2 linked regions of the Homo sapiens genome follow. The protein of the gene in region 2 interacts with the protein of the main gene of each other region in a pairwise test. Each region holds a gene or a part of one and is shown on either strand. Other genes may lie near its edges. The genes, in order: SYTL5 and CCDC85A.

Region 1 (16,070 bases), on a different chromosome or scaffold from region 2:
TGCAACCCTGCTAACACCATGATTTTAGTCTCCCAAGACTCATTTTGGACTTTTAACCTTCAGAACTGTAAGATAATACATTGTATTGTTTTAAGACAATATGTTTGTGGTGATTGGCTACAGCAGCAATTGGAAACTCATAGTATCTATCCAATACATTTTCATACTTCTCTTACAGTAACACTGTATCAGTTGGGATAGGCTAATACAGCTTTATTCAAAGTTTGGGTTGCAAACCAGTGCAGGTCTGTAAACTTACTGGTTTGCAATTATATAAGTAAAGAAATTAAGAATAAGCATTTAGAAATTTTTATAGTAATTTGACAGAGTAATTTTAAATCTGTTGAATCTGATGAAAATTTGTACTTGAATGTTTATGTATTTCATGTCTCATTTATCTGCTAATTTACTTAAATTGTATTTTGCAAAAATACTATTCTATCCAGGTTGAAAATAAAAGTAACAAACAACCTGATCCTTCATCACAGACATTTTGAGCAGTACTGGGGTAGACTATGTTGTGACACAAATAACTCGCAAATTGCAACAGCTTGTAACAGCACAGGTTTATTTCATATTTCTTGGCCATGCTATATATCCCTCAAGAATCCAGGCTGTTTAGGGAGCTACCATCTTGAACACTGCCAATTGCCACACCAGAGGGAAAAAAGAGTTCTGAAAGGTTTCATAGTAGGAATTAAATGTCCTGGCCTGGAAGTGAAAAACATTATTTCTACTTACAACTCCTTAAACAGAACTGATGGTCACTTAGCCCTACCCAATTACAAGGGGGCCAGTAAATGGTATCCTGCCATCTGCCTACAAGAGGAAGAAATCGTAAATATTTGGTGAACAATGCTAAGGACTATGCCAAGCACTCATCATGCTGATTTAAAATGCTGATTTTAACCAACATGCATTGGTTTTCCCTGCTAATGTCTAAGCTCTGTGGGATATCTCGTTTTGTCTTGATCAGCCCTGTATTCCTAACACCTCACAACTCCTGGCACCATAGTAGGTATTTGAAAATATTGCCAAATGAATAAATTTATGAATTAAATGCAAAATAAGACATTTGAGAAGTGATGCCTAAAATGAAAATTGGAATATAGCCCCTCACCACAGGGCCTGACAAGCAAAACTAAAGACTCCTCAAAGGGCTTCTGCAATACTTGTATACATCCCATTATTTGCAGTAGAGATTCATAAACATTGTTGGGAACAGTTGATCCCTTAGATAATCAGTGACAACTATAGGCTCTCTACCTCAAAAATATACATATACATTCTAATGACAAAGGGAGGTAATTTCAGGGGTTTATAAACTGTGGTCACCCAAGGGCTTATGGTCCACAGGGTAAGCACTGCTAATACAACATCTTCAGAATAAAAGACTGACTTTGTGTACCCTCTCAAAGTTGGTGTTGGAGAAAGTGTGGGGTAGAGGAAAGGGTATGGGCTTTGGAAACTAATGGAATTAAAATTCTACTCCCTGAGATAATAACATAGATGTGCTACTTTGTCTTTGCATCTCAGTTTATTCATCTGTTAAATGGGCATATTAATATCTACTTCCTGGGTTTGAAGAATATATCATTTGAATATTAAAATGAGTTAATGTATAAAAAGTGTCTAGCACAATGCCTGGCATATAACAGATGCTCAGAAAATTTAGACCCCTCCATCGTTTCTATTCTCAATGAAGTTAAGCAATACGTCATTAAAATGCATCAGTCCAACACAAACCTCCATTCCCTTTGATTCACAAAATACCCAGAGGTCTCTGGCTTCCTAGACTTTCTATTAAGAATTTATAAATCTTAGCAATTCCTTAGAAACATCATAATTTTTAATTAATACCATTATTAATAATACTAATAGTCTTTTTATATGTGATGGCATGCTTGAAGGCTCACAATACAAAGGCAGTGAAAAAAACTCAGGATACAAAATTACTTATGCAGTATGGTCCCAATTATATTAAAAGAAATATATATATATATATATATATATATATATATATATATATATGCACACACATATATGTATTATAGAAGAAAGAATGAGAAAAAATAAGCCAAAATATTAAGTCTATTTCTGGATAGTTATAAATGTATTTTAATATCTTCTTTATAATTTTCTTTATATGTTTTTACAATGAATACATGTTACATATAAAATCAGTTAAAAAAATACAGCAAATGGCATTTCTGTCAAAAATATCTTATAGCCATATTACCTCTGCTTCATATGTCATGATGCACAATGCATATATCCACTGATTATCAATAATTATCATGCTAGGCTACAACACAGGCAAAGAACAGTATGAGTGTCATATAGCTTTGAAGTTAATACATCTAGTTCCTAAAGTGATGTTTAATTCAAAAAGACATGTTCGGTCTGAAGAAAATATAAAACCAAAGAACAGATAGAATGAGTTATAGAGCATATAAATGTTCGTGCAGTAAACACGTATAGAATCATGTGTCAGAAACTATGTTGGGCCAGGCATTGTGGCTCAGGTCTGTAATCCCAGCTCTTTGGGAGGCCGAAGCGGGCGGATCACCTGAGCTCAGGAGTTCGAAACCAGCCTGGGCAATATAATGAGCTCTCATCTCTGCTATAAATAAAAAGTTAGTTGGGCATGGTGGCACACACCTGTAGTCCCAGCTACTTGGGAGGCTGAGGCACCCGGGCTGAGGCACCCTCCACGTGGGAGGTGGAGGGTGCAGTGAGCCAAGAACACGCCACTGCACTCCAGCCTGGGCGACAGAGTGAGACTTTGTCTCAAACAAACAAACAAACAAATAAAAAACAAAAAAAGAAACTGTGCTGGATCTAGGGGATACATTCATGAAGAATGCATAGGTTCTGTTTTCAAGGGGCTTCTCTATTTTCTATTATTTTCTAGTGGAGACAAGCATAAACATAAAATCACAGTTTCATAAATCCCAATTTTGGCTTTGAGAACACAAAGGAAAAAACAATTAGGAAGAAAAAAGTGGTCATTCTAGGTTGTAGAGACAGCAAATGTGAAAAAGTCATAAGAACACACAACTAGTCCAGAAGAAATAGTGACTAACTCCAGGTCTGGGGTCTGGGTTAATATTGGAAAGCTAAGAGAAAGGGGGATGTCAGAGTGGGAGGAATTTGGCATCCAAACAAAGAATATGGACTTTATCCAGTGTTTTTCAAACTGTATCTTCAGGAATGTTTTCTTAGGAAACACAGCGAAAGAGGCTGAGTGGCCAAGCCTGTGGCGCCGACGACTGCTTCAAACAGAGCAGCTCCGTTTTCATCTGTTCTATAAGTTAGATTTCCTGGTAGGATTTTATTTGAAGAAAGAATTCCATGACCTTAAGAAGCCTGAAAACTGTTCTCATGCCATCAAGCTGTTGAAGCTTTAAAGCCAAGGAACAGCGCAATCATATTTGAATTTTTTATTTGTTTTTTGAAAGACCAGCACTCAGTGATTGGATGAAAGACAGGGGAAAGGTCAGGTAGACAAAATGAGGAGGCTCTTGCAGAAGTGCCAGGGAGAGATTAGGAACTAAAGCTGTGTAGTGGGAAGGAAAATAAGAGTCACTTTTGGGACGTTTTAGAATAATCTCAATAAGATCCAGTGACCTCTTCGATGTGGGTGGTATGGAAGAGAAAAGAGAATGACTCTGAGGTTTCCAGCATGGGGAACTGCAAAGGTTTTTAAATTTTAGTGTGCATAAGAATACCTAAGTATATTGTTAAAAATAGATTTCTGGGTGTCTATCTCCAGAGAGCCTGATTCAGTAACACGGGGGTAAAGCCTAGAAATGTTGATGATAATACTGTTCACAGTGATGGAGAGTACAAGACAAAAAACGTTGAAAGAGAAAAAAAAATAATTAATTGCAATTTAGATATGTTGAGGTCCGGATACTTATGGTGCAACAACAAAGGTACTTATGATGCAACAACAAAGACCTGTCCAGAAAGGCATTTAGAATAGGAAACTTCCCATAAACTGTTTATAGCTTATCAGATGTCTATACTAGAGGTATTTAATTGGGAATCATTGGTGCCTCGATGGTGGATGGTGGTTGATGCTGTGCAAGCAAGTGAGATTACCAGGAAGAGAAGTGAAAGGGGCAAAAGATAGAATCATGAGAAGCAACAATATTTAAAGAATGGACAGAGTGTGGCAGGCCAGGTCTCACTAACGCAGGCCTCCATAACAACTGTTTCAGCACTGACTGAGTGGTGAAGTTAAATATTAAAAGCTGATAGAGCCAGTGCCCTTATACAAAGGCTGGAAGGTAACAAAAGCCCACCAAGAGTTTTGCCCAGGCCTTTCCTGGGCCTTGAAGTATGGCAAGATAATGAAGGAATTCTTAACAGGACCCATTTAGGATAAAACAAACTTTACTGGGGGTCTGAAGAAACGCCCCAGACCTCCACAAACAAGTTTATTGGGGGTCTGAAGGAACTCCCCAGACCTCCATGATTTAGCAGGAGACAAGATAAGGGTAATCACCGCCGGCACCTGGACCCATTTAGATTAAGTAAATTTACTGAGGCTCCAGAGGAAGGTCTTTAGGAGTCAGATCTTAGTTATAGAATAGAAGAAGTAAATCACTTATGTCTTTAGATGAATGCACACTTACATGTAGACATATAGCTTAGAAGGTATATAAGCTCTTTGTCAAAAATATCTCCAGACCAACTCAAAATTACAAAGTCAAAAAACTTTGTAATTTTGAGTTGGTCTGGAGATATTTTTCAGCCATAGCCGGTTACAGAAATAAACTTCCTTCTTTCCCAGCTTATCTGAATCTCGTTATCGGGCCATGAGAATAAGCAGCCTGATCTTCGGTTTGGTCCAGGGACAAGAGGAATAAATGAGATGATGAAAGAGACTGAAGAGGGATGATCAACAGAATGGGAGGAGCAGTTAGTTAAGTCTAATGAACTGGGAGTCAAGTATATCACACAGAGTCAATGATGTAGGTCATTGCTAAGTTCACATTTCAACTAAACAATCAAGTAAACTGTTAACAACACCTCCAGCTGCAAGAAGTATCACACTAAATCCAGAATCTCTGAAAAATGCACCATATCAATACATTTGGCCTAATCCAGTGTTATATTACATCTTCCTTGGCCTAACATTCTAGGTTTCTAATGATATAAATTAGTAAATCCTGGAATTATTTTGGTGCATAATCTAATTCCATCCAGGTCAGACTTTGTACTTGTTCCCCTGGAGCATGCTGAAAGCTGAACACAGTTGCGGGCCTTGTAGCAATGGGCATTGGTTGGAAGAAGGAAGTGGGTTTTGAGAATGGGCAACCTCTCGCATCAAAAAACAACAACAACAACAACAACAAAATTGGCTGAAAAATCAACCATTAGTTAGGAGATCTAAAGTCATAGACTAAGACATAAGGAAAAAATAGTTCAAGATGGATGTCTAAGAGGATGCTCTGCAGTAGAGGCTTATGGTGCAGGAGACCACCTGAAGCCTGGAGAATTTTGAAGTCATGCATATTCAGGCATTAACATAGCATAGATCATTTTTGCAGCATTCAAAGTGAGTTAGTGTTGGAAAATAAGCAGAAATGCCTTCATACATATGAAATGCATGGTCAGACAGCTCTTGAAAGTTCAATGTTCTGAACAAACACCTTAATGTAAGTAGCTTGAAGGTGAGTGTAAGAAGATAAAATATTCTACCTGTACGTTTGGTGAACCATCATCCAAACCCAATTAACCAAGCTCTCTATATGGATTGCAGACTACTCTTAGGGAATCTTGCTTCCAAGATCATAGAGACATGACCTAACTGAAAATGCATGAAGGTCTTTTGTGGACACCCACCCATGCTATCACCCAGGAGAGCAGCTTGAAGCTCTAGGGAGATGTATTTTTAAACTAAAAGTGAAGTTGACCCTCATCTGCCCAGATTTCTCCTCTAGAGGAGGAGTTATACATAAATATAGCCAGCTTGCTGCCCCTCATACTTGGTTAGGATTCCTATAAGTCTGATTGATAATGTCATGTCTGCCACATGTAGCAAGGAGCTGTGGAGAGTAAGATGAACAACATTTCTGCTCCTTAAAGGTGGCTTTCCCCCATGGTCTATATTAGAGGTTGGCAAACTTTTTCTATTAAGGAACAATTAGTAAATATTTTAGACTTTTTGCGCCAAGAGCCAAAACCATAGCTATTTTGTGGATAAGTATGCATCAATCAAGAAAATAAATGTCTGCCAATATTTTACCGATGACATTAAAAATATAACAATAATAATTGAGTGCAGTTATTTCATAGCATAGATCTACTAAAGAGAAGAATGGAATTTTAGGGCACATAACATCTAACTTAAAGTGAGCATTCCTATCATTAAAATTAATGATAGTAGGCCTAGCGCATTCCAGAGCTACTGAATTTGAATCTAAATTTTAACAAGGTCCCCCAGTGATTTGTACCTTAAAGTTCAAGGCCATTCTGGTCTAGAGTTTCTTAATACATTTTTGGCTTATATTTTTATCACTTTAGAGAAGATAGTGAAAGCTGTGGATCCTAGAAAAAGTTCACAAATCATTTGAAGTTCATTCAAGACTCCTACAAGGTCTGTGGCTTTGAAATTAAGACCCCAGGGATTCTGTGGACATGCCCGCCCAGAGCGAAAGTGTTCTGAAATTAGATTGTGGTGATGGCTAAACGCACTGTGAATAGACTAAAAAAAAAAAAACATTGAATTGTACACTTCAAATGGGTGAATTGTACAGTATGTACATTATATCTCACAAAAGCTGCTTTTCAAAAAAACAGAATCTCTTGAGTTTGTGTTCCATGGATTTTTTTTAACGTCCTATGGGGTTCCAATGGACACCTCAAGTGGAGAATTGCAAAGAGTCAGGTTTTGGAGTCAGGAAGCTCTGCATTCAAATCCTAGCTTTGGCAATTACTATGTTACAGAAACTAAGTTACTTAACCTCTCTGAACCTTGGTTTCTTTTCATACAGGGTGGAGATAATAATAGTACTAACTTCACAGGGTTTTGAGGAGGATCAAAAGGAACTTCTAATGCAAAATTCCTGGAAGATTCCTTGTCACATGCACTTTTTCATGTGAAATGGTGGGATTCCTCAGATATCAAATGCAAAGCCAAAAATAATTACATGCTTCGCATTATTCAAGTCGTAATTAATCACACATGTCATATTATCCATGTTGTACTATATTTTCCACTTAAATGTATATTTCCTGCTCCATTATTATACTTGCCTTAATGCTTTTTCCTTATGAGTCATGGTAATAATGATAGTGAACACTCAGCACTTATATACAAGTTTCAGGCCCTGTTATGAATTCTTGATTTACATATATGAACAGTACAATCTTTACATTGTGAAAGGAAAATAAATCTCTGGACCCCAAAATCACTAAGCCGAAGGGAAAAGTCAAGCTGGGAACTGCATTGGGCAAACCTGCCTCCCATTCTATTCCTAAATAAGATACCTACAAAGATAAAAAAGCTACATACCTCCCTCACAATTTTTCTCACAGGGAAATTTCTTGTGGACAAAGGACAGGGAGAACTCAAAGTCATCCCTCTGTCACAGAAGACAAATGTGTATCTGATTGCTTCCTTTGCCCTGTTTTTTCACTAAGCCAGACTAAGGCATAAGTGACTATTCCTGTAAATTGTGCTTATCAAAATATCAAAAGAATGCAACCATTTGTCTCCTATCTACCTGTGACCTGGAAGCCCCCTCCCTGCTTAGAGTTGTCCCGCCTTTCTTGACTGAACCAATGTTCATCTTACCTATACTGATTGATGTCTCACGGCTCCCTAAAATGTATAAAACCAAGCTGTGTCCCAATCACCTTGGGCACATGTCGTCAGGACCTCCTGAGGCTGTATCACTGGCACATCCATAATCTTGGCAAAATAAACTTTGTAAATTGATTGAGACCTGTCTCAGATACCTTTTGGTTTACAATATCAATTATTTGATTTAGATACTTTCACTATTCCCATATTACAGGTAGGAAAACCAAGGCAGAGGGAGGTTAAGTAACTTGTCCAGTGTTACACAGCTTGTAAGTGGTGAAGCTGGATTCTGACTAAGGGGTCTGACTCTATTGACTGTGCTCTTGACCACTATAATATACTGTAGAATTAAATATACATACATATAACATATATGTACACACACAACAATATTATATATAACATAATATACAACATAACACACAGGTGTGTGTGTGTGTTTAATTTTGTATTGGTCAAATTTATACCAGTGCCCAGCACTCCTGCTTTGGAGGGTACACACTTGTACATACCAAAAGAGTTTTATTATGACAGTGTAGAGAGGATGTAGGATATGACATCAGAGCAGATTGCCCTGACTAAAGAAAGAAATAAAAGCTGAAACAGTAGTCAGAGTGTGGAGAGGGTAGAGAGGAAAATGAGATTGGGGAGGTCCTGATGCTACCTGGCTCCTGTGAGCAGGAATGGGGGAGCTAAGCTAGGAGAGGAGGAGTTGGTGGTGGTTGAGGGACTAGGAGGACTGAGGGGGCCAGTAGATCTAGGGGCCTTGAGTAATGATGAGGGGCCCAAAGAATGCAGGGTCCCCTTAAGAAAAGATCATGGAGAGGAAACCAATCAGTGAGATGCTGGAGATGGGGTGAGGTCAGTGACAGGTTCGCAGATACCAGTATAGATTGAGTGAGCCTGAGAATCAGGAAGAAAGGTAAAAATTGGTGCAGCAGGAAAAAATACCCCAGGAAGATGCCTTTGGAAGTTACTTAAGCTGACCAAAGTGACTCTGGTACAAAGCAGGAACTCTGGTTTAAATCTTGGCTCTAAAATTTCTGAGAAACATGACTGAACCTCTGTATGCCTTGGTTACATAGAAAACACTTGAATAGTTCTTGAGTCACGGTAAATCCTCAGAAAGTGTGAGCCTTTGGCATTATCATTAGGAGCAGTACTGAACCTACATTTCATGTTTGCTGACCCAGGTTCAACATTTTTCCCAGTATAAGCAGTGAAAGATTATCACTAGATGATATTCTCACTGTTCAGGAACCTACTCTTTAGGTCTGAGTTGAGCCAATATTTAGTTATATCCTATTGTGCTTAAGTATAAAGCCATACATATGACTATTATTCACAAGAACAATAAGAGTCAGATGGGAATTCACTTGAAAGAAAATCAATAGCTGTTTGGTTGTTGTGTATAACTGATTTAGAAATAACCTTCCTGTGTTTGGAGCTCAAACTCTGTAACAGTCAACAAAAATAATTAGATGGCAGCTGTGAGTAGTTCAAAGCAAATTAAATTCTTCCTTCTTGAACATGGCTAATGCAAACAGGACATCCCAATCTATATTTTTTCCATATTAATGTCTGGACTTCCTTGTATTTAAGATCAATAGTATTCTCCCTGTGCTGGTCTCTCAATTAGTGGGAAGTGATTCTTCATCACAAAATGGTTTTTTAGTACATATCTAGTTCTAGTCAAAATATGCAACTTAAAAATTATACATTTGTTTGTGGCCACAGACATCTTTGGATATACCATTATCTGTTGAAAGTTGGGAAAAATGCCTATTTTGCAATAGGCTCTTACTGCTTTGTTTGAAAACTGATCTTTGATATAATGTCACTTGATTTAATGAAATCAATTTCAAAAATTTTAATCATATACTGATTTTAATGTAACTTCACACCAGGGAGAGAAGACTATTGTTGTACATAAATAGCTCTTAGGGGGATATATTAATGGATTTGTCTATACTCTGCTATTTGTATTAAGTAAACCTGTTTGATATGATCACTCTTGTTCTGTGTTTACAAAGTGGGCTGTTGCTGAACTTTCGTTTTTATAATCCAGATAAAAGTATATTTGGATTTAAAGTTTATATTTGAACCTGGAACATCATTATCTGATGGCTTCTTTCCAAGTTTGGTTTCTCTATTGCACACCCCCACGTCCCACCCCAACTCAACTATATTTTCTGGTAAAGTCTACCACTTCCATTCTTAGTAAACATTATCAATGTTAAATGGTTGTTTAAATTATATTATTTGGTCTTGAGGATTTTACTTGCTTTAGAATGATATGTATCTTAGAGTTGTTTTGTATTCATTTTCTTGGTTTCTTTCCAAGTCCTGATATTCTCTCGGAAATATTTTTTGACTGCACAACACCAAAACAAAAATGCCGCTGAAGTCTATTTACATGAACCAGACGTGTTCTTATTCATTTAAATGAATCAGACATGTTCTTATTGTAGGAACAGAGTGTTTCCTGGCATTCTGTTAGAAATATTAAATCAAATTAGCCTGGATAAGTCGACTGTTACAAAAATTGGAAACTGCTAAATTAAACTTTAACAAGAGTTACAAATGGCACTGGGCCTTCTTGGAAATGAAAAAAGTTATTAAGTGTTCGGTGAAGGTAAATTTGATTTTAATATTCTTATTCAGTGAAGAAGAAAATGAACTAAAAGCCTATTAAGTTATTTTTGTAGCTAACGCTTAGAGAAAAGTAAAAAAAAAAAATCCCACTAAACTACGGTGAGAGAACATTTAAATGAACAAGAAGTAGTTAAAATAGGAAATAGAAAACAAACATAGCAACTCCAAAAATTGAGCCTGAACTTTTGAAATAGTTAGCAAAGACAAAGATGGAAACTCACAGATACCCTAGAAAATATCCCCACGGGCAGCAGCAGCAGTTAAGTACACGGGTACAACATCAGTTAAGTACAGGGCAAAACAATATAATATACTCTCTTTTTTTTTTTTTTGAGACGGAGTCTCGCTCTTTTGCCCAGGCTGGAGTGCAGTGGCGCGATCTTGGCTCACTGCAAACTCCGCCTCCTGGGTTCACGCCATTCTCCTGCCTCAGTCTCCCGAGTAGCTGAGACTATAGGCGGCAGCCACCGCGCCCGGCTAATTTTTTGTATTTTTTTTAGTAGAGACGGGGTTTCACCATGTTAGCCAGGATGGTCTCGATCTCCTGACCTCGTGATCCACCCGCCTCGGCCTCCCAAAGTGCTGGGATTACAGGCGTGAGCCACCGCGCCCGGCCAGCAGTATAACATACTCTCTAGGAAACAGAGAGCATCAGTATTTGAGGCCTTTGTTTGATGCTCAAATACAGAATAATGGATGAGAAAAACCAGACTCTTCTTGCACAGCATTACTGGACATTGGATTACTTAGTATAAATCTTATGTAAGTAATTTTTATCAATTATGAAAAATATCAAACATTTATTACCACTTGTCAAGGAAAACTGGAGATGCAACATGTAACAGCAGTCTAGGACTCCAGAGCATGCCCTTTTAACCAGATTCTAAAACACAGAGTTGCTGATATGATAGCACTCAGTGCTTGAGAAAATTGCCTCTGGTGCTGGGCTGCTTGGATTTGAAATCTGGTCCAATTACCAATTAACCTCTATGATCCTCAGTTTATTCTTATGTAAATGGTAGTGGCGATGATGTTGATGATGATGATGTTCATCTCATGAGGTTCTTGTGAAGATTAAATGAGTTAAAAAATTTAAGGCACTTAGAACAACCCTTAGAATATTCTAAGTATTATTATTATTTTTCTTTCTGACATGAAACAATCAAACAAACTAATCTCCAAGTGTATTAGTAAAAATACACACTTTGGGCAATAATCCTATAAATTGTGAGGAATGACATTTCTAAGGGCCCTTGTCCTCTGAAATGCAATAAGCATATGACTGTTAAAGAGACGGATTTCTAGAATATAGAGGACAGTTGAGTCAGCTTTCTCAACATTTGGACATTTATTTGGATACTGACATTTTGATTCCATGATATACTGACATATTTCACAACACAAAAGGGCAATCTAACATTTGTTCTTCTTTAACAAAAAGAAAATGTGTCTGAAAGACTGTTATCCCCATTTTTGTGCCCCGAATGGTCGCTCAGAACGTTCATACCTCCATCATTTGCTCAGTTCTGCCCCAAATGGCAAGATCATTCTTTTTTTTATCTGAATCATGAGGGATTCATCTAGGTACATGTGTCCAGTCTGTAGCTCTGTGCTTGCATCCTTGCTGTACCTAATCCCCATCTGGTGGCTCAGTTCTAATACCTGGCTTTCACCTCGTAACCACACTTAGCCTCATAGGCCCCTACCACCTCTTCCACATTTGCAGAGCACTTACTATGAGCTAGGCACTATTTTAAGTATTTTACATTTACTAAACGTTCTAATCCTACAACACTCTTATCAGTAGAAACTATTGTTATCCCCAATTGACAGTGAGGAAACTCAGCAACAGGAAAGCTAACTAAGTTTTCTCAATTTCATGCAGCTGGTAAGTAGCAGAGCTGAGATTCAAACTCAGGTCATCTGACTGCAGAGTCAACACTCTCAACCCCTGCACAATATGATTTCAATAGTTAAGACCTGGGGTTTTGGTCTCTGCTACTGAGTTATTCTTCCAGCAACAAATCTTACTTTAATATCTATATAGTTCTTCATAGTTCAAAATGATTTCCTCTCCATGACTATATTTGTTCCTGTGGCCACTATATGAGATAGAATGAGTCTGAGGAAACTGTGGTTCACAGAGAGTGCACAGGGGGCAGTGAATGGTAGAATCAAAACTTAAACCTGGCTCTTTGGCTATGTTCTTTTCACTACCCCAATGATTCTGGGGCTTAGAAAAAGAAGATATCCATGAGGTGTGGACTTTCTGATGGAGATGGGGCCTGACCAAAACCTTGAATTGTAGGTAGCTCTTAGACTGAGGGAAAAAAGGATGAGAAAATAGAGAATAAAAGAAAAAAATAACAGAAAAGGGAGATGAGAGAGGATGGCTTCTAGATACATTATAATTAAAGAAATGAATGGACTTGGTAGTGGTTTGGATATTGAGAGCAAAGGAAAAGTTAGAAGCAAAATTGACTCCAAGATTTCAAATGTGAGAAACCAAGAGATCATTAATGCCATTCACAGAAACAAATGAAATGAAAGGGGAAGTGGTTTGACATAAAAGCTGTGAGTTTGGCTACAATCATGATGAATGTCGAGTGACCCTTGGACATACAAGTGGGAAAATGTATAGCAGATGGAAAAGATAAGATGTGGAAATGGAAGTCTTGGAGGTATCCACTTAGAGGTGATATTTAAAACTAAGGGTTGATAAGAAGTTATAGAGAAAGGCAAAACGTAATAGGTTATAGGCTAAATAAATGCTAAACCTTTGAGGGAAACCCAAACTTAAGGAAGAGAAAAGGAAAAATAGACAAGAAGGGAAGTGGTAGAAAAGCAGTTGAATAAATAGTATAGAGTCATGGACAAGAAGGAAAGAGAAAATTTAAGAAGTAGGAATTGATCATGTGTGTCACATAGAGCCAAGGGGATGAATAAAATGAGAATTTGGAAAAGTATTCCTTATAGCCCTTATCACACTTGTAATGAATTATTTGGGTGAGTTAACACCCTTCCTAACTAGACTGGAGATATATAAAGGCAGACTTAAGTGTTCCCTACTGTAACTTCAGTGCTCAGCAATGCCTGATGCATAGCTGTCACTAAATAAATATTTATTGAATGGATGAATGAATACATAAATAAATGAATGTACTTGAATTTCCTAGCAGCACTACAGGTGACCCTTGGAAGTACAGTGTCAATAAAGTGATGAAGATTGATTTTATGTCATAGGGGAATTTGAAAGAAAGATTTTAAAAGAGAAAGTGAGGCAGTAGGGTATGTTTTATTAATCACTTCTTAGAGAAATGTTTTTGTTAAAAGGAGAGAGAGACCAGATCAAGTGAATTTTTTATCCCAGTACACTACATGTTTATTATATTTTGTTCCTCTAGGAGCTCCTCCCTATTTTAGATAATCTTTCAGAACCTAAGGTAACCACAGCGGTTGCTAACTCTGCAAGTAACAGAAGCACCATCTGCTTTTTTGCTGTCTTCAGTAAAATCAAAAGTCCATGGGCTAAGCAAGATGGAAGATGTAGAGAAACAGAGGTCAAAGGAAATGATGATACTCCCCACAGAAAGAGATAACCAGGAATGGAACGAGGTTGGAGAGAAGTTTTGTGAAATCATGGAAAATGTGTGAATGTATATAGAGGGGTGAGAGAGAAAGAGGATGAGAGACCACAGACAAGTAAGATATGAATGTACAAAAGCATATTTACAAGTAGATTTTAAGTAGAATGTATTAAAGATGATTAGCTAAGTGCTTACGCAGGATGGCAAAATAGTCATAAGATACATCATCATATAATAGAGCTTAAGTAAAACGAACTGCTCATTTTACATATTAAAGCTACATTTCCTTTTCCTTCCCTTAACATACTAAATAATAATAAGGAAGTAATTTCAACAAAAATACTAAATGGGCCTCCAAAAGAAAAGAGGTAGAAGCTCAATAATTTTATTCACTAAACCTATCAGAAGACTTTAACAAATCTGAATAAATAGAAGGATAACATAGCTAATACCCAAACTTAAAATAGCAAAGAATTTCAGGAAATCATAAATACATAGAAAAAGCATGATTCAACAACTAAAAGAGCAGTAAGACATTTTCTCAGTTATTAGTTGCCCACATGTAAATATGCATGTATATGTGGGTATGTACATATATATACTGAGGGATGCAAGGACCAATTTAAGGATTTCACTAGAGTCCAAACAAATGGCTTCATGCATTTAAGACCTAGGGTATGAATTGTAACACTTTTGTGTGTAAGCTGTTGTCCAAATAACATATAAACAACTTATTACAAAATGAAAAAATTATATACTTAATTCCTGTGTTTAAAATACTTTTTAAGGAGGCTACTACTGAAGTAGTACTTCTAAATGCATTATTACATGTAAACAATATTTTATACTATTTTGAATGCTATAAATATATAACTCCTGTTTTCTCCAGGCATATGCTTTTCTCCAGGCATACACATATACTTGGAGCAAAGAGAAGTTATATATTAATAGTTGTAAAATTACGTTTTTCATTTAAATGAGGAAGACAGTATTGGTAATTAAAACAATCTACATTAAGGAGAAATTTTTTAAACCCTGATGCATCTTTTCAGAGTATATTAATGTTCACAGTTAATATCGCATTTCTGTAAGCTGTTACAGTATCATATTCATGTTGAAATTATTCCAGGTTTTTCAGACTTTATTAATCCTTCTACTGAATTTATATCCATACTGGATATTTGTCCATATCAAAAATGGAACTGAATGTAAAAACAATTAAATAATTCCAAATGAAACATCTAAATTTTCTAATAAATGAAAGAAATTCAGAGCAAAAGGACAATCTATGTTATATAGAGATGTGAGAGGTTTATATAGAGAGGTGTGAGAGATTTATAGCAAAATGATGCAACACTTCTGCTGTGAATTTGATTTTTTTATGTCACTAGAATGCATATTTGTTCCTGGAGGCACTCACTCTTCAGTAGAACCTAGTGCAATGCTTCACTTCATAGATAGAATCAAGTGTTAATAACAAAAAGATACTTATATTTCTCTCCTCAATCCATTAAACTCATAGCTACCAATGGCCAAAATGTCCCTTCTGTACATATTTCTCCCTTTTTTACTGTAAAATACAATATCAAATGGTGGAAGGAGCTGTTTTCTTCCTGACCAGCAAATCCCACTACTCCCCTACCACACACAAAATACAGAAATTAAGAAATCAGATATCACACTGGAGATCCCTAAACGCATTAGTCTTACCTTAATCTGAAGGTTAGAATGTTTTTATGGGCTTATTTTTCTCTCAAACACACAAACTGTAGAATGCTGGACTACTTGACCCTTGTGAACTACTTGGAGCAGGAACTTGAAAAACCAGCCTCTCATATTCCCACAATCTATTTACACATTGAACACACCCAGTAGCACAGAGTAATGTTTATCTGTTGCAGACAGCTATTTCAAGAAGAAGGCAGTATCTCTAAAGCTGAGCTTTCAAAAAGGAATGTCTCTGTTGATCAGCAGGGGAAAGGTAACAGGTTTCATCTAAAGCACATTTT
Region 2 (16,070 bases):
TAAACTTACATTGCACATTTCTCTGACTATAGCTTTTTCTGTCTCACTAAGGTCATGTTCATACTCTTTACCCTGTTGACGATCTATAGTTTCCTGAACATCCAAGACCTGGATTTGTTGAAAAAGAAAAGCAAATTTCACATGGAAAAAAGCTTGTTAGTTATGATAAAACCATCAAGGAGCTCCACTTTGTAAAACCTTTAGTTTTCTCCATGTCTGCATATCAGAGTGGATTAGCATATGGAAACATATTTTTTAAATAGCTGATTGTTCTGAAATCTATTTGGAATGATTCTATTTGATTTTCAAATGGCCATTAAAAGCAATCCATTGCATCACTAATAATCAATGGAATTCATTAGTGTCTAAAATAAGTATATGCATTTACTTTGGTCATTAAGATAATCTCACTGTATCAACAATTTGGATATAGTCAATAACTCTTGCTCCACTGTAATGATGACCAATATAATTAACTATGTGCCAAATGGTCCAAATGATATGTAGACATGGCCTGCATAAAAGATGACTAAAAAAGATGATAGTGACAGGTGAAACTGGTCAAAACCCAGGAATATGCACGTAAGAACTACTGACCTCGCAGTTCTTGCCTGGACATGTTCCCAGTGCCTAAGAAAAGGCATGTGGAGGTGGCTCTTTGATAGTATCAAAGAGAAGCACTGGCTCCTTATAGTGAAAATATTTGAACAACACTTTAAATATTTTTCATGAAAGCAAAATGTCTTGGAATAAAATGCCTTTTAAACAATTTTAGAGGCCTATGTTTCCACTTCTCTAAATTAGCCCTAAACACGTTGAAAATAATATTCCTTTAAAAATGTCTAAAGTTTTATTGTGGGTACCTTTTTATACTACAAAAGGAGAAAATAACTTTGGCTTTCTGTGCTGTTTGTTGTTTTTATCTATATCAGTTTATAAATCAAAGTGTTGAAGTAATACAAAAAACTAATGCTCTCCCTAGAAGTTCCTATAGAATCCACACCAACTGCAACACTGCTAAGCTACTTGATTCTACTGTCATCACGGACAATGCTGATGTTCACATCTGCTACCTGTGAATTTACACCAATTGAGCCAAACTAAATGACTTAAGCATGAAGTGGGACCTTCAGGTCAAGTTCATGGACACTATCTGAATCTAACTAGAGTTCGATCCTGTAATAAATAATCTGATCACAAACTACACTCATTAATTTGAAACGTCTAGCCATTATTATTATAAAAATGCCACTTCTGAGCCCTGATACTCACCTCAGATTACAGTTAATTTACCTTCTTTACATATTTAGAGAAAATCACTGACTGTGCTTGGTGAATATTCATAGAAAACATAAAGAGCTCCTTCCTTGAGCAAGCTCATTTACCTACAAATTTGATTTGTAATGCACCTCAGAGAAGTGTACTTCAAATCAGTTAATTTTTACTAAATGAAGTAAAGCTCCAATTAATAGTTATCATAAATTTTAAAACAAGAAGAATATAGTGTCATCACAAATGTACTAATTTCTTACAGTGCTTTACATTTCCCACAAACCATGACCACAGATTTTATAAAGCCTAGCGTTTTCTATAAAATCTATCAGAAAGTGAGAAACTGAGCCACTGTACTAATTATTCTTTTCACAATAGACATATCTCATGATATAAATCAGCTCTAGACAGCTGGCTCTCAAAAACAAAACATGTCAAGTGGCCATAATTTCTTTTTCTTATAATGAAATCTTTTTAAGATGTATTTCCCAAAACTGATGTTTGTACATATTTCTGTGTCCTAACACAGTTAACTCATGGAAGTAAAAACATTTGATATTCAAGGGTCCCCAGTTTTCTAATAAAGATGTTTCACTTGCTCAGTATCACTCATCTGCCAACCAAGGACACTTATGTGTACTGAATATAACATAAAATCTCCCTCTCTTGAAACATATATATCTTTTTTTTTTTTTTTTGAGACGGAGTTTCACACTGTCACCCAGGCTGGAGTGCAATGGCACGATCTCGGCTCACTGCAACCTCTGCCTCCCGGATTCAAGCAATTCTCCTGCCTCAGCCTCCCAAGTAGCTGGGATTACAGGTGCCTGCCACCACACCCTGCTGAATTTTTGTATTTTTAGTAGAGACAGGGTTTCACTATGTTGGCCAGGCTGGTCTCAAACTCCTGACCTCATGATCCGCCTACCTTGGCCTCCCAGAGATAAAATTTTGTATGAAAATTAGAACTAAATTCAGAGAAAATTGAGGAGCTCTTCCTTGCCCTCCCCTTCCTTTTAGGCCACACTAACAGCTGCTTTGAGAAATCTGGAAAATATTTCAGTGTGACTCACTATGCTGATCTGATTCAAATAGCAATTGCCATTTAATAAGGCAACAGGCTGAAATGGCTTTCAAACAGTTTGAATAGGAGGACAAGTTGCTGCTGTTGGAGTGTGTGCAGATGCTATAATACTACAAGATTGAAGCCAATCTCTGGTCCATTTTCTACTTTTAAAATGCTTTTCAGATAGCTAGTGCCTGATTCATGCTAAAGTTCATCCAAGTGCTGCCACAGAGAACAAGATATTCAACAGTCCATAAACCAACACCCACTAGAGGCAAAGCAGTGCCCCCTCACACTGGCTGTGCCTTCCCAGGAATTCCTCTCAGTTGCTCACTTTGTGAATTATTCCAACAAAGACAGAAAATGCCAAGTGCACTGTCAGTGGCCACTAGCATGGTTGCCCTGCCTTCCCTCATCAATAATCAGTATATGTTTAGGAAAAGCAAATTCATTTTGTATAAGCTAAAGCAAAATATCCTGAGGGAGCAAAATCTTCTGCTAAAACTTCATCATCTCAAAGTGAAATAAACATTTTGAAGTTCTCATCTATGTATTTGTTTTGTGCATGCCACAGAAAGTGTGGCCCACTCCAAAAGAGGAGTGCATCTCCAGGCTGATGATAAATCATTTTGAAATTGAAACAATTTTAAGAAGAGTTGTGAAACTCACATGGTAAAAGCAGATCGGAAGCACTCTACCTGTTTTATGGGTCAGAAAGGTTTGATCAAAGCTACATGTTAGAAATTATAGATAGATTTGTTAGACAGTGCTTCATACATTGAAACTGATAAAATTTCAAGAAACCATCTCAATTTGTAAGATGATTTTTATCACCTGTGTTAGTTTCTTCTTTGAGATAAGTAAATATTTATATTGTTTATTTATTATTAATTGTACCTATAGTCCTGATTTTTCATTAGTTTTACTTATTGGAAAGCTCATTATTGGTAAAGAAAATAGATGACAAATTTTAGGCAATTTTTTGTGAAATCACTGCAAAATGTGAAGGAAGACACAAAAGTAAAGTAGCTTTATGTATAACACCATATATCTGTTTTCTATTATTCTATAACGGGGCATTAACTGGAGTTTGAGAACCCAATTTCTACTTAGAAGAGGAAAGAGTAGGTTTTTATTTATTTCAATATTTTATTTAAGTTGCATAATGTACTTCAATTGCATCAAGAAAGAATACTGTGGTATCCTTCCATATTATGACCAACTATTAACTTCCTATATTTGAAGACATCCACGCTACAAACATTGCACATAAAATACCTATCACAATTTTTTACAAATATGGATATACATGCACAGACTGTAACTTCGATGCCGATAGATATGAATCACATTCTCAAAACAAAACGATAAAACTAGAGATTCAACCATAAGTACTCAAACTCATTGTCAGTTTAGAACAATAAAAATCATACTTCAAAAATTAAGATTTAAAAAGTTACACCATAAGGAGTCAAAAAATAAAATATCTATGGTTCAAGCAAGACTGTGAGGACTACTAGACTACAGCGAACAAGCGACGACACAACTGAAGCTCTGGATAAATGGTTGCACACGATTGGTTACCTTAAGAGAATGTACCACAGGTTCAGGCTGCTGGGAAGGTGTGGCATGTCCACTGAAGCTAGCTGCAGAGTTGGGTGAACTGTTACTCCCATCAGCCCCTGATGACAACCTAAAAGAACCCTTAGTAGAAAATCAACAACTTTGTTATTAAAACAAAAGTCGTTTATAACTACAAAGATGTCATTCAATATTCAATTTCACTACCAAATGAGAATTAGCCATTTTGTTACTTTTTCCTAACCTAGTCTACAATGCTATCAATCTGTTCATTGGAACACACTTGCTGCTTGACCAGCAAGAAAACATAAAGAAGAGCCACTTCAATACATTGTCAGATGCCATCTCTGAAATGCCCCACCCCCAAGGAATGGCCCTTAAACACATTTCAAGAATGATTTTTGAAACTCAAAGATACTTAAGAGTAGGAAATTCATGAGTTACTCCATAGCTGAGTTAAACATGCTCACTCAGCAAGCCAAATGCCATATTCCATATGTCTCAGAATATGCAGACACATCACATTCTTGTGTTGGAGAAACTGTGTCTCTTATAAAACCCTTCTTTGAGGGAAAGACCTATAATAAAGCATTTTCAAAAAAGATTTATCCAAATTCAACGTTTTCTTTAAAAACTGAAAATTGATCTTTTCTGCTCTTTTTAAAGATGAAAAACAGAATAGATATAAACTACATATTTTTAGTTTAGTGGTTCTTCAACTTAATTGGTGAGAAACTAGAACCTGTACATGATTAATTTGACATGTGCAGGCCACATTCTTCTGTACAAGCACTGGAAATTTCCCCTAAGGATCTGTACTTTTTCTAAAGGGTGCTTGGGGGAAGACTAATGGATCAGTAAAGAAAAAGAGAGTATCAGTTATCTACTCTCCTAGAAAAAGCAGTCACATGGGAATTTTCCAAATCTATTTTTATGTAGATCATTACACTATTAGAGAACCTGAAATTTTAATTTCTGCCTATCAACCTATTTACAGAATTTTTCATGTCTAATTGATTAGTAATTGCTCCATTCAAGTTGATTCTATCAATCTAACACCCCGAAGAGGAGTCACTGAAGGTGTATCATGAGAATTCATAAAGAGAGAAACAACGGTAGTTTGGAATATTAACTTGCAGACTCTCTCCATCGCCCAGGCTGGAGTGCAGTGGCACGATCATTGTTCACTGCAGCCTTCAACTCCGGGGCTTAAGCAATCCTCCCACCTCAGCCTCCTGAGTATCTGGGACTACAGGCATGTGCCATTATGCCTAGTGACATTTTATCTTTTTCACAGAGACAGAGTCTTGCTATGTTGCCCAGGTTGGTCTTGAACTCCTGGCCTCAAGTGATCCTCCTGCCTCAGCCTCCCAAAGTGCTAGGATTACAGGCATGAGCAATCCTGCTCAGCCAAGAGAATTTTTATGCTGTACATTTTAGAGATAAGAAGAGAAAACTGCACCCAGCAATTATAGGTATGGATTACATGTAAACCATGCTTTATAAGGAAAGTTTATTATTATTAACTTAATGTTATTATTGCAGATTATTATTTTTGCAATTTGGAAGATTTTCTCCCTTTCTTTCTTGCTGTCATTTCTCCTATGTCCTCAAAGGCTCCCCCTGCCACCTCACTAGCCTACTGAGGCCACATTCTTTTCCCTGCTCAAAGAGTTCTATAATCCAGTCAGGTCCTGCACCCAGCCTCACTGGCCAACAAGGAGAGGAAGCAGTAGAATATGGCATGTACGTGGCTTCCTCAGTTTCTGTCCTCCATTGCTACTAAAACTAAAATGTACAGCAGGTGATGAAACAGGATTGTCAATTAGAACAGACCCAATCCCCTGTGGGAAAGGAAATTAAAACATTTGTTTTCCTGTATTTATAAACCAGATCAAATCAGAAACAATAATGCCTAATACATCTAATGGAAGGGAAATTATCTGAAGTTAAAAGATGGTTAAGGGACACACCCTTCACCCACCCTCATATTTTGGACATCTTCTTCCTCTATACTTTGGATCCTTTGGAATCAAATGGTTCCAAAATTAAGGAGTTATAAAAGGAAGCTCCTCTTTCCTGAGTAACCCTGGTCCTCTACTCTTCTCTTTTCCTCCTGGTACCACTCTTATGAATGCTTTTCAAAAGATTTCTCAGGTTATACAGAATTCGCTTCAAACTCTTGTTTAGGACCCACCATTGCAGTGCCATATTTCCTCTGACTTAGAAGTCATATTTCCTCTAATTTAGAAGGCAATAAACCTTCCCACTCTGAGCTACTTCCTTCCTGTTTTTACTTTCAAATCCTTTTCTGCCCAGCCTTTCTGCTTCAAATGTTCTCTTTCCAGACCTGGTAAAAAGATAAGCGTATCAATAATACCATCCTTTTGCTTGGGCATGGGCCTCTATCGTTCAGGGCATTTTGGTTTCAGAGAACTTCTAAAAATCAATGTAAACAACATCCTTAAACCAAATCATCTGAGCCATTTTCCATTGTTTAAATGTAAACAAAGTCCTGTTCTGGCCATATCTATTAAAAAACACACTTTTTTTTTTTTTATGAAAGTAGTTTTCTTTAAAAAATGGGATGGGGGCTACAATAGTATTTTGCCTGGAGTATACAGTGGGGGGAAATTCATCATTTAGGGATGAATGTTATACTTCAAACTAGCTTTGGGAGCCATGGACTACAAATCAACCAGAAAGATCAAGGCTTATATTTTATTTTGTTTTTGTGAAGCCACAAAGGTAACCAAGTGCCTGGTGAAGTTTACTTCCAACAGATGTTAAATAATTTTTCTAGACTGCAATAACAGAATGAAGCACCTCATTCTACTATATCTCATTTAGTACTATAAAATAAAAGGTTAGTTTTCTATGCGCTTAGCAGAATCAGACCAATATTTGGAGAATTATGAGGGTTCAATTTACATATACTCTCAGTCGACTAATACATTTTCACTGAACTATTTAAAAAAATATGCTACTGAGCCAAACAGGGAATTTAAAAAGAGAAAAATCTTACTAAAACTGGAAATGTGATTTCCAGATTAAGTGGCTTGTTTTCAAGCTACACATGATCACACAGTGCATGCATCACCTCTCAGTCAGTAGACAATTTTAAAGGGCAAAGGAGTACTTTTCTGAGCTTGTCTAGAGACATGATTTTCAAGACCACTGACCTAAACTCCTTTTATCATGAAATGTCCAGGGTACTTTTGTTCTTCTCTCCTGCATGCGGTTGCTCAACTTTCACCCCCAGATGTGGGGGAAAAAAACAAGAAAACTGTTTAGGAGGTGAAAAATTCTACTCCCATCCTCCCTCCCCAGACTTAGACATACAACTTTCTTTCATGTGTATGAACTTGTTTTCTACCCCCCAGTATAACTTTTTCTCTAGCAACAGAAGTCATCTGGTTATGCACAAGCAAATGCATCCAGCTGACTCATCTTCACTCACCGGGAGAGTAGGCAGGCATCGTCCTATTCCTCGGCACCCTTGCCACCACTGCAAGACCCGCCGGGCTCTGGACCCCCAGCCTTTCTCCATATTTGAGCTGTTTCTAGTTGGAGGTTGCCTTCTATTCTGGCTGGCCTTATATTTGGAACAATATGGTACAATCACTCAGAAAAATACTGTTTCCCAAGTCTCAAGAAAGCAGATAGAACATGAAGCTTAATGAGATGAACCACAATGACCACAATGGCAAGCTGTAACATGCACCTGTAGCTAGGGAAAAAATAAAAATAAAAACAATCTGAAGTCCTACATATTAGACCTAATCCTGATTTAAGTTTCTGGTAAACATATAACTACATTATAAATTCTATCAAAAAGTAGACGATAAAGTCAAAATTACAGAAAAAACTTGAAGGTATTTAAACAACTTTATTTTATGGGTTTTACCAGCATAAAATAATAATATGCTTTACCTGGATATTATACAGAAATAAACTACATAACTTCAGAACTTAACAAAAGTTATTTGAAATACAATTGGGAGCACTATGCCCTTTTGTTAAGAAGTGAAATTTGGGTATACATATTCAATAATACTGAGAAAATTAAAACTGCATCAAATTTTTAACAAAATTTCTGCATGTTGAAGAGAATGTAATGAGCTAAAAGGTCATCACTGCATTAAAATAAATATTTTACATAGAAAAATCTACATAATCATCAAACTTTGTATTCATAAGTTAACTAAATTTTTATGTATTTATTAGAACTAGAGGCATCACATAATTGAAAAGAAAAAAGTCCTTAATTTTAGCTTTTTCCATCACCAAACTGTATAATCCTATTAAAATGATCAGAAACAAAATGAACTTATTAGAACATGATTTCCTCTCCTGCCAACTTTCACAGAGACCTATAACTAAGAATATAATGTCCCAAGGAATAAGAAAATAATTTTAATAATTTAATAATTTTAATTATGGAAAATACGCAAAATGGTCCCAAAATTCTAGTGTCTAAATGTTGAGGTTGACTTTAGAAGACTGAAAATAAGAACATAAAATTTTAATTCTCATCAATTCATTTTTTTTGAAGTTAGCGGCCTATATCTGAATAGTACTGGTCCAATTTTCACTCTTCTCTAACTTTTGGAGGTTGAAAAAAGAAAATGCACCATGGTCTTAAGTGAAGTAAGAAAGAGAAGAAATAATGACCAGTAGTTGGTACTCACAAAACTCTTTTCTGAACCTATTAAATTGGCACCAGTGACCTATAAAAATAAGTCACACATACTCTACTTCTCACGTATAACAGAGGCAATTATATATTTGCACTTGGGTCATAATGATAATTTCATCATAGCAACATTAATTTGAACATTGCTCTTTTGATAATTAGTCCATGTGTAGTGTCTAATTTGTTTCCATCATCAAAAGAATTATCTCCAAAAATTTATAACATGATTCACAGCTTAATACTCACCTCCCACCCCAATCTGCATAATTCTATTTCTGAGATGATCATTAATGAGTAATGCAAATTTTATAATTATTTTTACAAATAAGGAGATCTAGTATCTGAATTTGATTATTTCCATAACATGCACCTCTCAGATCTTATCCTTTTTGGATTTAACAACTGAGTAAAACATATAGGCATTCTACTTTCATTCTTTCTTAATGTGTAGCAAGGCTAAATCCCAATTCCTCTCCATTGTAACAAAGCTTATCATCATACCCATGAAATCTAAGGTAGGATCTATGCCAACTTAGAAGCCAGCTGGCATGAGCGCCATTTAGCTACTATGTAGAGAACTCACAATAATTTCCAACTTTCAGAAAGTAGATACTACATAAAACAATAGCTATACTTTAAGTATTATAAAATGTTCCTTTAAAATATATTAAATATGTATTTTATAGTATTATTAATCTCATAAGGGGGAACAATAAACAGGGGCCAGATCTTTGTGGAAGAATAAACTGATGATATAACCATTTTAAAGGAAAAGGCACTCTTTTAGAACCAGGATTAATTAATTTTCTCCCCATGTCAGCATATATATTTTTTTAATCTAGGTATATAGAAAAGTGTGTTCTGGGCCAGCCATCATCATTAACTTTCAAATAAACTACATCAAAATGGTATTTATACACTAATGAAGGCTTAGTGTTTCGCAGGGCCTACAATCACCAATTACAGTGTTTGCTGAAGACAGTTTCATAAAACGTAAGAAGCCTTCAGTAATTCAGTCGTTAAACTTGTTTCTGGCAACTTGGGGGCTCAAAATGGTGGAACTCAGATTCTGGTCACTAATTGGGAGAACAATTCCAAACAGTCTTAAGATCGTCACTTCCTATTTTCTGAGGAATTCTGTTTCACTTAGTTTTGTTTTCTGTAGTTTTCTAAAATTCCAAGTTTGTGAAAAAGAATCCCTGAATGACCCTAACACTCCCATTGTGTGAGAAGTAAATTATAGATTACTTACTCTGTGGTAAGTACTCACAGAAATCATAAAAGAATATGAAGAAGTATGAATCACTGAGTCTCTTTAAGTTTCGCTATAACTGTACTAGTCAATAGTTTTTATTCCTTGAAAACTCTGGAAACTTCTATAGAGGTAATAGTGTAGGGTTTTTCAGAAAACGAAGTATTTCAAAAATTTGTGAGGAGGAAAGAAGAGTGAAAATCAAGTACTGAAAAGAAGAAAAAGGGGGAAATGGGAAATCCGAACTGTACTTCTCACTCACCAGGCATCTCAGCGAACTTCAGACACACATAAAGGTTCCTCTTGAATGATGAACAGAAAAAGTCCCCAAGAACTATTTGTTGGAAACCTCAGTAATAAAGTATGAAGTGACCTATGTTTTAAGCTAAGAAGAATAAGTCAGCCTGACTTGAAGACTTTTACCTTGCTGACTTTGAAAGGCATAAAGATGGGCAAATGAATTCACATATGGACATTTGCATGGGTTTAGCATGAGTCATAGCCTTTAGTCCTCAGGACTTTCGGGGTCAGATTCTGGTTAGTTCTTCAAACTTCAACAGGGTATAAAATTCTCTGTACTTAAACATGAAATCAACATGAAGTTTTGAACAACTACATCTGCAACATTTTCTCTTCAAACTACGACCATTCTAATAATAAATAGTTCTCATCTATTTATTTAAAGACGTACAACATTCTCTAAGACATTATAGTTTATCTTTCCCTTATTGCTCACAATGAGCTATATATGTAAATGAAGGGAATAAAAACCAATTTTGCAAAAAAATAGACCATTTAACTTTTTTACACTGTCGTGTTTCTTTTCTCAAATTTGCGTGAATTAAGTGTTACTGTTCCTCATAGAAATAATGAAAAACACTAAGAAATGTCCAATATTATATGTTATCTAAAATACATGAATCACAAAACGATGATCACTCAGAATTTGATGTGTGATCTCTGCAGTAGGGAAAATTACCTAAAAAATAAAGCTCCTAGAAAAATCCTTTATAATGTTTTAATTAGTAATGAAGTCAAGGAAATTTTTTAATTTAATGAAAATTCTTCCTAAAAAAAGTTTTGTTTGCACGCCAGAAAAATGGAAAACAAATATACTGAGTTTCTTATTGAATATATACATATACATATATGTACATATGTATGTGTATATATAAAAATATATATGTACTATATAAATATTTCCAATTGACTAAAACTCACATTCAATAGAGTAATACTGTAGTGTTACATAAAATAGTTTCTCACTTTGATATAAATCAGATGTAATGCACTTATAACAAATTTGAGACCCCAGCCCTCTCATTCACTATAGAAGGCCAACTACGGAAGCCTGAAGATTGATCAGCTAAAGTGGTTTCCTGTTACTTAAAGATGCTTAATTTTTTATAATTCCTGAACTTGGTTAAACTATCATATAATATTTAATACCTCATCAGAGTGTATGCCTAGTTTAAGGGGGAGGATAAATTCAGTTTTCCCTTATTACAGGGCAAGGCAGATACTTTGCTTAATCTCATCAGGGAAATAATATTTTGTTCAGTTTGGCCAATCTTCATTCTGACATATTGTAAAACTGTCCTAGCAAATAAATAAAAGCTCTGATTAGAAGAGATTTTAAAGGTCACCTTGGCAAACCCTCTCCAAGAGATTCTTGTGCATAGGCTTAGAAATGCTAAGACCCTCTTGCCTTACTCTAATGTTAATATTTAGTCGGTTATATCCAAAGAAAAGTGCATTTTTCATTTAAATTAACTAAAGAATCTATTCAATGCTGATGTAAAATAATAAGTAATTTCCTGGATGTATAGTCATTCATTTATTCACTTAACAAACATTAATTTAGTAACTATCAGACGTGATATTGCATGCAATGCCATATAGATACCTATTCCAACGAATTTTTGTTGAAAGAGAAACACAGTGAGTTCAAATCACAGACTCCAGGGTCGCAGTGCCGGAGTTTAAATTCTTGATCTGACACTTATGAGCTGCATGACTTTGGACAAGCTATATGGCCTTTCTGTGCCTTAGTTTCCTCATCTATACAGTGTAAATAATAATGGTAAAATGGTACGGTCACTCTATGGGCTTGGAAACTTACATGGAAAGAGCTTTTAAAACAGTGTCTGGCCCACATAAGTGCTCTATAAGCATTTGCTGTCCTTATCATGAATGTTTTTGCTTTGCTTGTCAACATATTTTATAACTTGTCAATTTATGTCCGAATGTTTATTATTGAGAGTGTCAGTTCTCATTGGGGGCGGGGGTGATTTGGCCCCCAAGAGAAAACATTTGGCAAAAATGCCTGCAGACATTTTTACTTGTCAAAACTATGCAGTTTCTACTGGCATTTAGTGGGTAGAGGCCAAGGATGTTGCCAAATATCTTAAAATGCACTGGACAGACCCCTCACAAAGAAAGGATTATCTAGCCCAAAATGTCGCTATAGCTGAAGTTGAGAAACCCTGATTTAGAGAAAGAGAACTATGTTGGGAAACTACAAAGCAAAATTTCTGGTGACAGCTCTATAGCAGATTTTGCATATGAGGACATGTTGCCCACAGGATTTGGAGCTTGAAAGGATTTAGAAGGAAACTCCTTAAGCTTCAGCCCTCAAATGGTCTAAGTATAAAGGCAGCCACATTTCCACCCCCAAATAAGAAATTACTCCAATAAAAGAAACAGAATTGAAAATACCCATATCATCCTACTGTAACAACACTAGCAGAAAGAGAATACGCTGTGGGCAGGCACAGGGCAGTGGTCCAAAGGAAAGAGTTCTTGAGATAGAGACATATAGTATGCTACAGTACCTAGAAAATCGTGACACCAGTCCCACATAGAGAATACAATTGGCAGAAGGGGCTCTGTGGAAATTATGGAAGATCATAAAGCTTACTTAACAATTTGCTGGGCAAAGATTCTGCACTTAACTTGAAGCAGTCACATTAGGAAAGAATAAAATTGCCAGCAAATAGAAGTGGGGGCCCTGACACATGAAACACATCTCAGTGCTAATGAAAGCATTATAAGATAATGGCAAAAGATTAAATAGATAAAAAGATAAAAGAGAGATTAAATCATAAAAGATGAAAGAAATAAGAAGGAGAAATCTGGACCAGGAGGCGACTACTCTCTGCGTCACATGTGGTGAAGGATTGTAGCCTATGTACAGACTCCTCGGCAGGCAGAGGACTTCTTGAGGGCCTGTTTTTGACATAACAGCTCTCAATCACTAAGCTCCTACCACGTTAGCACTACCCTAAGTGCTGTCCATTAAAAGATTAATAAAACTGGCTAATGTGAGTTCCTAAAATGCTGGGTGAATATCCAAAATATAGAAATAACTCAAACATCTCAATAGCAAGGAAACAACCCAATTGAAAAATGAGCAAAGGACCTGAATAGACATTTCTTAAAAAGAAGACATACAAATAGCAAAGGATTTATGCAAAAATGCTGAACAGTTCTAATCAAGAGAAAAATACAAATTAAAACCACAATGAGATCACCTCATGCCTTTTAAAATGACTATTATCAAAAAGACAAAAGATGTGTTGGCAAGAATATGGAGAGATGGGAACCCTTGCACACTGCTGGTGGGAATGCAAATAAGTATAGCTATTATGGAAAACAGTATGAAGTTCCTTCAAAAAATTACAAGTAGGACTACATATGATTCAGCAATCCCACTACTGGGTATACATTAAAATTAAACAAAATCAGTATGTCAAAGAGATATCTGCACTCCCATGTTAACTGCAGCATTAGTCATAATAGCCAAGATATGGAAACAACCTAAGTGTCCATGAATGGATGAATAAAGAAAATGTGCTATCTATATATACAACAGAATACTATTCAGCCTTAAAAACGAAGGAAATCCTGTCACTTGTCACAACGTGGATGAACCTGGAGGACATTACACTAAATGAAATAAGTCAGGCACAGAAAGATAAATACTGCATGATCGTACTCATATATGAAATCTTAAAAAAAAAGTTTATTTCTACTTAGAGAGGAGAAAGGTGGTTACCAGGAGTTGAGGGGATTGGGAAGGAGAAGGAAATGTCTGTCAAAGGATACAAAATTTCAGTTAGACAGGAGGAATAATTTCAAGTGATCTACTGTACAGCATGGTGACTATAGTCAATAATTTATTGCATTCTTGAAAAATACTAAGAAAGTGGATGTAAAGTGTTCTCACCCAAAAATGATAACTATGCGAACTGATGTATATGTTAATTAGCTGTATTAAGTCATTCCACGATGTCTAATACTTTAAAACATCATGTTGTACACAGTAAAGATGTAATTTTATCTATAAATGTAAAAAAAGTTTTTTTAAAGATACTAACTGTGGGCCTGGTAATGTTTTCAGTAATTTATACCCCAGAGTGATTTTTCCTTCTTTGGGTCCCAGAAGTCTCCTTCTAGTCTATGCACTCATTCTTTGGCTCCTGGGTTACAGAGAGATCCAGATGATCCTAGGGAGGGTCAGATTGGTTGGAATAGCTCAGCAGCCTTCGAAGGAACTGGATTAGAAGCATGTTAATATGAATAACTGATACAGATGAACTGCTACACACCAGATTAACATCAGCTCTGTGCTCATTTGACCTTCTCCACTCCAGGCACATAACTGTGGCTGCAACCATTACATAAAATGTGTATCTATCCTAATAAACAAATGAAAGTAATATTAATTCACACACCCCTCATTTATTATGCCAAATAATGGCTGAGATTGATGTCTGTGGAGTCACAGTGGACGTAGTAAGCAGCTTCAATTCAGAGAACCAAAAATCTTAGGCTGCTGACATGTTCAGGAAAATAAAATTAGTTCTATCTTCCTGTAGTAGAAGGATGTGAGCACAGGATATGAGGCCCAGAGTAGCAAAAGCTGAGTCCAACATGACATGCAGGAGTTGCATGGGAAATCTCCCATGCCGTAAGAAGGATTTGAAATTTATTCTATGTGGAGCCACAGATGTAACAGAAACTGATTGGTGGTGGACAGATTGATCTGGTAATAGTGTGGAGAATGATTTGGGTGAGGCCAGACTACCTGGGATGAAGTTCCAATTAGGAGATCAACAAAGAATTTGAAGGGAAAAAAAGTATTACTTATTGCCTACACTGGAAAATAGCAGAAGAAATTAAAAGGACAATATTGATGGATTAGAGGGCAAGACCCTATGAACTTTAATGTCTATTTGAATGTAGGCAGTGAGGTTGAAGGAGTTATCCAGGATGACTATCAACTTTCTGGTTAGGTACTCGCTAAATGGTCATGCTATTAACCAGCATAGAAAATACCGGGGGAAGTAATAGATCTAACTCTTTCATCAGATTTTTAAAATCAAGATCAAAGAAGTGATTAATAATGCAAAGCCCTCAAGCATTCTTTGTCACGAATACCCTCCAAAAGGTTTTCTCCTGACATGTGAAATAAGAGAGTTTGCAAAACATTTAAATTTAAAATGATATTAACTTCATGCAGTGCTCACTGTATCACTGATGAAAATATCTCTGCAAACAATAAAATGTTATTGGAAGGAAAAGAAAGTAATTTTGAAATACCTGTTCCTCCAGGTGAAACTTACAGATACAGAAATATAGTTCCCAGAAAAAATAAAACGAAATAAAAGTAATAATTACAGAAGGTTAGCAGGATGCCTTTTTACAAAAATTACAAAGGGCAAACCCCAGGAAGAAAAGAATTAATATCTTTTGAAAGGGCTAAGACAGAAAACACCCAGTGTCTCTGTAGCCAGAGTGACGGCAGATAAAGAATAACATTGAAGGCCTGGTTGAAAAAAAGAAAAAGAGGCTGTTAAACAATACCTAGGAAACATAGGCAACTACTTCTAGGCAATGAGTCTATATGCTTAATACTTGACTTTTATTAACTATAGAACTCCCAGTGAGAAACACTGAAATTCCTACAGAAAAAGACTGATACTTCTAAATTGCTTTTCAATCAGGCTGGTATTAAATAGTAAAAGGTTATGGCATTGTTGCTGAGAACATATCTGAATACTTTCAGGTTTTGGGCTTATTTTTTAAAAGGGAGAAAAGGAAAGCACAAGTAGGACACGGAGCGTAAGGGCATGGAGCTGAATTGCCAGTATGGATGCAATGGCAAAGAAGTAATGCTAATTAACATTGCATCTGACTTG

What was found.
Region 1: the proteins of CCDC85A (region 2) and SYTL5 interact in binary tests that used the Homo sapiens proteins (3 or more experiments, as listed by UniProt).

The regions. Positions count from the first base shown.
Region 1 is NC_000023.11:38,006,370-38,022,439, reverse strand, and holds the start of SYTL5 (synaptotagmin-like protein 5), read right to left. Parts: upstream 15,888-16,070; 5' UTR 15,772-15,887; intron 1-15,771. UniProt on the Homo sapiens protein: May act as Rab effector protein and play a role in vesicle trafficking. Binds phospholipids.
Region 2 is NC_000002.12:56,363,788-56,379,857, reverse strand, and holds part of CCDC85A (coiled-coil domain-containing protein 85A), read right to left. Parts: intron 7,515-16,070; coding exon 7,380-7,514; intron 4,043-7,379; coding exon 3,923-4,042; intron 109-3,922; coding exon of another isoform or gene 10-108; intron 1-9. UniProt on the Homo sapiens protein: May play a role in cell-cell adhesion and epithelium development through its interaction with proteins of the beta-catenin family.